2 linked regions of the Homo sapiens genome follow. The protein of the gene in region 1 interacts with the protein of each later gene in a biochemical or structural test. Each region holds a gene or a part of one and is shown in the gene's direction. Other genes may lie near its edges. The genes, in order: UFD1 and GZMK.

Region 1 (3,925 bases):
CCTCCCAAAGTGCTGGGATTATAGATGTGAGCCACCGCGCCTGGCCTAGACTTACTCTCTTGAGAGAGTTGTTTAGAATTAAAGTGTTCTCTGTTTACAATTCAATAAAGTTAATAAAAAAGATAGCTGAAGCTGGGTGTGGTAGCTCACACCTGTAATCCCAGCAATTTGGGAGGCTGAGGTGGGTGGATCACTTAAGTCCAGGAGTTTGAGACCAGACTGGGCAACATGGCAAAACCCCATCTCGACAAAAAATACAAAAATTAGCTGGGCATGGTGGCATGCACCTGTAGTCCCAGCTACCTGGGAGGCTGAAGTGGGAGGATCACTTGAGTCCGGGAGGCAGAAGTTGCAGTGAACAGTGACCGTGCCACTGCACTCTAGCCTAGGTGATAAAGCAAGACCTTGCCTCAAACAAAAAAAAAGCAAACCCTGAAAAGTCTACATGCATATTGAATGTTTAAAAACAAATAAAATGAATTAGATAAAGCAAATATCTTGAAAGATAAAACTGTGAAAAATTTTATACTAAGAAATGAGCCAACTTATTTGACATTGATAAATTATTTCCTAGAGAAAAGTGTAATTGAAGTTTGACTAAAGAAAAAAAAAAACAAACAGCCTAAATAATTGTATAGCCAGTCAAGTAATTCAATCAGAAAAATCTTAATCCAGGAAACACAGGCCCAGATGGTTATATATGCAAGTTCTTCCTCACACTCAAGCAATAAATTGCTCTTAGATATTCTAAAAATAGAGAAAGAACATATCCCCCAACTCATTCTCTGAGGTCGGCATAACCTTGATCACCAAAACCACACAAGGATAGGAGAAAGGTAAACTACAGATCATTGTCACTTGATACAGATACATAGATTGTAGATAAAATATTGACAAAAGAATCTGGTCATATATAAGGAAGATTCTATACGGCAGCTGAGTGTAATAAAGCTCCAGTAGTTAAGACACCATATGGCATTGGTTCTGGAGTAGACAAGTAGGCCAGTGGAAGAAAGCTTTATATACAAAGAATCTTGGTCCACCACTGAGGCAGCATTGATGTCACCAGGCAAAGGAGATACTGGGGTTGCGGAATCTGGGATATTGACTATTCCTAAGATGAAAAAACAAATTGAGTTCCTAACTCATACCATAGTCAAAAATAAATTGCAGATGAATGGGTAAATAATATGTGGTACACACATACAATGTAATATTATTCAACATTAAAAAGGAAGGGAATTCTGACACATGCTACCACATGGATGAACATTCTGCTCAGTGAAATAAACCAGATGCAGACAGACAAATACTACATTCCGCTTACATGAGTACTTAGAGTAGTCAAACTCATGGGAGACAGAAAGTAGAATCACCTGGACACCGTGGTTCACACCTGGCATCCCAGCACTTTGGGAGGCCAAGGTTGGAGGATTGTTTGAGCCCAGGAGTTTGAGAGTAGCCTGGGTAACATAGTGTGATCCTGTCACTACAAAAAATTAATGAAAAAATTTTAAAATTAGCTGGGCGTAGTGGCATGTGCCTAGTTACAGCTATTCAGGAGGCTGAGGCGGGAGGATCAGTTGAGTCTGCAGTGAGCCAGGGTCAAGGCACTGCACTCCAGCCTGGGGGACTGAGCAAGACCCTGCCTCAAGGGAAAAAAAAAAAAAAAAAGAATGGTGGTTGCCAGGGCCTCGAGGAAGCAGGAATCAAAAGTGAATGTTTAGAAACGTATAGTAATTTGGCATTGTCATAACCTCCACACACATGGCCACAGAACCAGTACTTGTCTTGGTGAGCTCTGGGCGTCTGGTGTGTGTTGTGTCTTGCTTCTGTGCAGGAGGACCACATGGCAGTCCAGCAGACTGCACATTTTTAAAAACTAGGTCTTCCCAGGTAGTTTGAGGAGCACCAACCTAGAAAATTGGTCCCATAGTTTAAAAAAAAAGTATTTAATATTATGCCAATACATAAAAGTAAATGGAAAATGTCACAGGAATATTTATCCTTACTAAATGCAATAGTACTTCTAGGGTACTGTCTTCCAATTCTTTCCTTTTCAGTTCTGCTTGCAGCCCTGTTGGTTTTATGACCCACTGATTATTTGTGGCCTTTTGAAAACATGAAAACGGTAGAGAAGCATGAGCCAAGCCCTAGGAGACATGTTTGAATGTTTATAGTAGTGTCATTAACACAGCAAAATGATTGGAAACAGGCCGGATGCTCAGTGGATAAGTGGTAGTATATCCACACAATGACAGATCCTTTTTTTATTCCTTATCTATTCAATAATTATGACACTTTTAAAAGTAGATTTGGCCCTGCTTAGGTTTTTTTTTTAAATGGTGGGACTATCCAGACTTTTTAAAATGGTTGTAAAAGCAAGACATACTGGCCGGGCATGGTGGCCCATGCCTGTAATCCCAGCACTTTGGGAGGCTGAGGCGGGTGGATCACAACGTCAGGAGTTCAAGACCAGCCTGGCCAACATAGTGAAACACCATCTCTACTAAAAACACAAAAATTAGCTGGGTGTGGTGGCACGCACCTGTAGTCCCAGTTACTTGGGAGGCTGAGGCAAGAGAATCGCTGGAACCCGGGAGGCGGAGGTTGCAGTGAGCCAAGACCATACCATTGCACTCCAGCTTGGGTGCCAGAGCGAGCCTCCATCTCGAAAAAAAAAAAAAAAAAAAAGCAAGACAGACTTTAGATAAAAGCAAAGAACCTGAAATGATGCAGGAAAAAGTAGATAGGGCCACTTTTAATTTCTATGCTTCTGGAGTTTGTTTGTTTGCTTGTTTGTTTGTTTGTTTTTGACACAGAGTCTCGCTCTGTTGCCCAGGCTGGAGTGCAGTGGCCCGATCTCAGCTTACTGCAAGCTCCACCTCCTGGGTTCACACCATTCTCCTGCCTCAGCCTCCCGAATAGCTGGGACTACAGGCACCTGCCACCACTCCCAGCTAATTTTTTGTATTTTTTAGTAGAGACGGGTCTTCACCATGTTAGCAAGGATGGTCTCATTTGCCTGACCTCGTGATCTGCCCTCCTCGGCCTCCCAAAGTGCTGGGATTACAGGCGTGAGCCACCACGCACGGCCCTGCTTCTGGACATTTTTTATGTGCCTTTTTTACATAGGTGAGGTCATCTTAGACACAAGCAACATGACTGGTTTTACAATTATTTTCCTGTTGGCTGCGTAGCATACCATTGTATAACTGTAAATTTACATATGAAGAAATATAATTCAGCTGCATTTTGAGTATACAGACAGTCCCTGACCATGGTTCTACCTAGAATTTTTCAACTTTATTATGATGCAAACATGATACACATTCAGTAAAAACCATACTTTGAATACCTATACAACCATTCTGTTTTTGATCTTCAGTACAGTATTCAATAAATTACATGAGTTATTCAACATTTTATTATAAAATAAGCTTTATAGTAGATGATTTTGCCCAACTGTAGGCTAATGTATGTGTTCTGAGAATGGTTAAGGCAGGCTGCACTATGATGTTTGGTAGGTTAGGAATATTAATACATTTTTAACTTATAAGTTTATGGGACTTGGTTCCATCATAAGTCAAGGAGCATCTGTACAGTGGTATTAGTGACGTTGGTATGAGCATTCTTAGAATTTTCTCATTGGGTATAGCTAGTTATTTACTTAGAATAAATTTCGAAGGCCGAGTGCGGTGGCTTATGTCTGTAATCCCAGTTCTTTGTGTGGCCGAGGTGGGCGGATCACCTGAGGTCAGGAGTTCGAGACCAGCCTGGCCAACATGGTGAAACCCCATCTCTACAACAATACAAAAATTAGCCAGGTGTAGTGGCACATGCCTATAGTCCCAGCTACTAGGGAGGCTGAGGCAGGAGAAGTGCTTGAACCCTGGAGGCGGAGGTTGCAGTGAGCCAAGATCGC
Region 2 (3,925 bases), on another chromosome or scaffold:
TTGTTAGATGGAACCTTCCACAGCCCCTTCCACATGGCCTCACTCCATCTCAAATGCTCAAGGCTCCTGGAACAAAATGGTTCAATGTTCAGGCTCTAGATTCAAGCCAACTGAGCTTTAATCCTGCCCGAATTTGCCTCCTGGAGGCAAAGGTCCTCAAGTTTATTCGTTTACCTGAACCTCAATTTCTTCATCTATAAAATGGGGATTGTCATAATACCTATCTCACCACGCTGTTGTGCGGTTTAAATGAGGGAAGCTTTGTAAAATGCTTAGCACAGAACACAAAGAACTTAATAGATGTTATCGAGTATTGTTATACAATTATCTGTGCCTTCCATGGTAATAACCAAGGAACTAATCTGATGTTGACGAGATAAGACTGGGAAGACCTCCCTCTCTGACAGCCAAGTTCTTCTCCCTCTCTCTTAGGCAAGAGAAATCTCCAAGACATAGGGACCCTGCCTTTGCTGCCAGACCTCAAGGGGCGGGTCTAAGCAGAACCACTGTTGAGTGTCCAGGCGCGCTGGCAGAGAAAAGAAGAGGCTTGAAGGGGGTTGGCACGGGGTTCAAAGAGGGATTGAGGAAAGAGCACTGGACTGGGAGTCACCAAAAGCCAAATTTGGGTCCTGATTCCCCTATTTATGAGGTGTGTCACCTTGGACCAGTCAGAGAACAATCTTTTACTGGTAAGGAATACACAGCCCGTCAGCTTTACCAGCCTTGAAAAAGGTTATTGTTAGGCTCAATGGAGACAATGTTTACAGATGTCTTCAGCAGACCCACTATAAGCCGCACTGTAGTTCTGCTCCATATATGAATCTCTTCCAGGAAAGCTCAGGGTGGGACTCCGGAAACCACATTTTAAACCAACACCTCCAGGTGATTCTGAAGCAAGTCTGAAGACTGCATTTGGGGAAATCCTGTGCTGTGCAACTGAAAAACACTGGCATTATTACTTCCTCTTTGTGTGAATTCAGACTTCAGTTTAGCTAAGGAGGTGGCATCCCAGAACTCAAGTAATTCCAGGTACCCTGTGGGCAGAAAATTTGACCTGAGTAGCACAGATTACAGTTGAAGGATATCTAGAAATTGAAAGGTCAGAAGGAATAATGGTCTGCTTGGGTTGTTTTTGGTCTTAACATGTCCCAGTGGAGACAAAAATAACCAAAACATTTCAAAGGCAATAACTAGCCGAGTAAATTAGTAAAAGACGAAAGAAACCCAGACATTTTTTCAGCATCCCTCCCTTAGTGAGAATCCACCCTCCATACCTCTCATTTGTACCTCATAGCCTTCTTTGTGTGAGTCATTTAGGCACGTGCCCACCTTTCTGTTAGAGCATTCATCCTGAAGATTTTTATGTCATCCTTCTCCTACAAAGTTTTGGGTTTAGTGGGTATGTTGAATTTGAATTCAAATCAATCCTAGGAAATCCAGTCCACATCCTATGAGAAATTTCCACCCGGTCCTGATTTTGCAATAGGCAAACTTTTCAACAAATAGAGCTGGAATTCCCAAAATAAATAAAAATAAACTCTTTTGGTAGAAACCAAAAAGTGGTCATTCCAGGCAGTCACAGCTCTGCCATAAGCAAACCCACTCTACCACAGGCATTTGCCATTTTCAAATCTGAAACAATCATGTCTTCCTTTTTCTGTATGTTTCTGTGCTCTTTGTAACTTTTATTAATCTTTATTAATCTATATGCATGAGTATGTGTGTTTTTACTGCAATCTACTTTGGTAGCTTTTCCAAGTAGCAAAGAAATAGTTACATGTAAACAAACAAATACAATTAAAAGATCTGAGGTGGACTTCATAAAGATAGACACTGTAATGGAATGTATCTGTAGTATACAAATGGCTCTACGGTTCTGCCAAAATCTCCAAAAAATTATTTCTACTTTATCACTGCTGTAAATGTAATTTTATCCAACAAAGAGTAAATCAGATCAATTGTGGCACTGTTGAAACACTGGTACTAGAACTGTGTATGACCAGAGATTTAAAAAGCAAACCTTGCCAGGCACAGAGACTCACGCCTGTAATCCCAGCACTTTGGGAGGCTGAGGCCAGTAGATCACCTGAGGTCAGGAGATTGAGACCACCCTGGCCAACATGATGAAATTCCGTCTTTACTAAAAATACAAAAATTAGCCAGGTGTGGCGGCACAAGCCTGTAGTCCCAGCCTCTCGGGAGGCTGAGGCAGGAGAATCGCTTGATCCTGGGAGGCGGAGGTTGCTGTGAGCCGAGATGGCGCCACTGAACTCCAGCCTGGGAAACAGAGCAAGACTCCTTCTCAAAAAAAAAAACGTTAAAAAAGAAAGCCAAAAAACAAACCTATTTCTTCACCTCACTCACCAGTTCGTATCCTCTAAATCTCCCCGATGGAATGGCTACTAACCTTAAAGTATCTTCATTTTAAATTAGCACTGTTTTCTTACCTTGAGGAAAGTTTTCCTTTCTTGTCCAAATCTTTGTTCTAATTGAGGGGACAGGACATATGGACATATCTGACTGTCATGTAATAGGCCTTACTTCCCCACATTGACCTGAGATGAAGTCTAGGCATGTGGGTGAGCAAGTGTAGGGTGGGGATCTTTGTGGTTTTTGTTTGTTTGTTTGTTTGTTTGTTTGTTTGTTTTTAAGAGATGGGGCCTTGTTCTGTCACCCAGGCTGTGACACTTCAGCCTCCAGCTCCAGGACTCAAGCAATCCCTCCTGCTTCAGCCTCTCAAACAGCTGGGACTGTAGGCATGCACCACCATGCCCAGCATGCACCAGTGTGCCCCTTAATGTTTTTTTAGAGATGGGGGTCTCACTGTATTGCCCAGGTTTCTCTCAAACTCCTGGCCTCAAATGATCCTCCCACCTCAGTCTCCCAAGTGGCTGGGATTACAGGCATGAGCCACCACACCTGGCTACCTTAATTATTAAAACACTTAATGTTGGGAAGATAAAAAAAGTTCTGGGGTTCTGGAGATGATAGTGGTGGATGAACAACAATATACATGTCCTTCATACCACCAAACTGTACATTAAAGAATGGTTAAAATGGTAAATTTTACCATTCTTATACCATTATGTATACTTTACCACAATAAACAAATTTTAATGGTAGTTGGTGTAAATCTCAAACTACAAACTCAAGGAATATAATTTGCTTTATTTTTACATAAATGAACATAATTTTGTTTTAAACTTGATCTAAGTCAATTAGGATTTCACTCCTTTTTCTTCCCCCAGTTGGATACAAGTTCTGATATTCTTTTGCAATGCCAGGGAATTGGTTTAGGGTGGGATTAAGGGCAAGTCATTTGGCCCTTAATATCAATTCATGCTGGGCTCCACTAAGACCTTTGTCACTCCACCTAATCTTAGGCAGGTTACCTTGGAGATAGCCCTTGTTTCTCTGTGTATACAACCCTCTCGACCATCACCACTCCCCACTGGGGGATTTGGAAATCATTCTGCTGCTTTCATTGTCTTTGCTTTTTTTAGGTTTACCAAAGGCCAGTCTCCCACTGTGGTTTTAGGCGCACACTCTCTCTCAAAGAATGAGGCCTCCAAACAAACACTGGAGATCAAAAAATTTATACCATTCTCAAGAGTTACATCAGATCCTCAATCAAATGATATCATGCTGGTTAAGGTAGGTAGTAGCATTGTCTTCCTTCTATTTTGTCAACATTTTTATACAGGATGGCTCAATTAGTTAAATCACCTACAAAATGCATTTTGCTAGCACCCTCCCCATGTTTGAGGTGATTATGATATATTTTATAAGGGCCCATGTTATTCCATATACTGTCTTGAAAGAAACAAGAATTTATCACAAATGCACCAGGGCTGTGTTTATACAAGGAAAAGCAACTCTGATACTCAACATATGTAGGAGGGGAACATCTTAACAGGCCCAAGGA

Evidence for each region.
Region 2: of the proteins of UFD1 (region 1) and GZMK, one has a biochemical effect on the other in vitro, tested with the Homo sapiens proteins (one study listed by BioGRID).

The regions. Positions count from the first base shown.
Region 1 is NC_000022.11:19,458,505-19,462,429, reverse strand, and holds part of UFD1 (ubiquitin recognition factor in ER-associated degradation protein 1), read left to right. Parts: intron 1-3,925. UniProt on the Homo sapiens protein: Essential component of the ubiquitin-dependent proteolytic pathway which degrades ubiquitin fusion proteins.
Region 2 is NC_000005.10:55,026,931-55,030,855, forward strand, and holds part of GZMK (granzyme K precursor), read left to right. Parts: intron 1-3,503; coding exon 3,504-3,654; intron 3,655-3,925.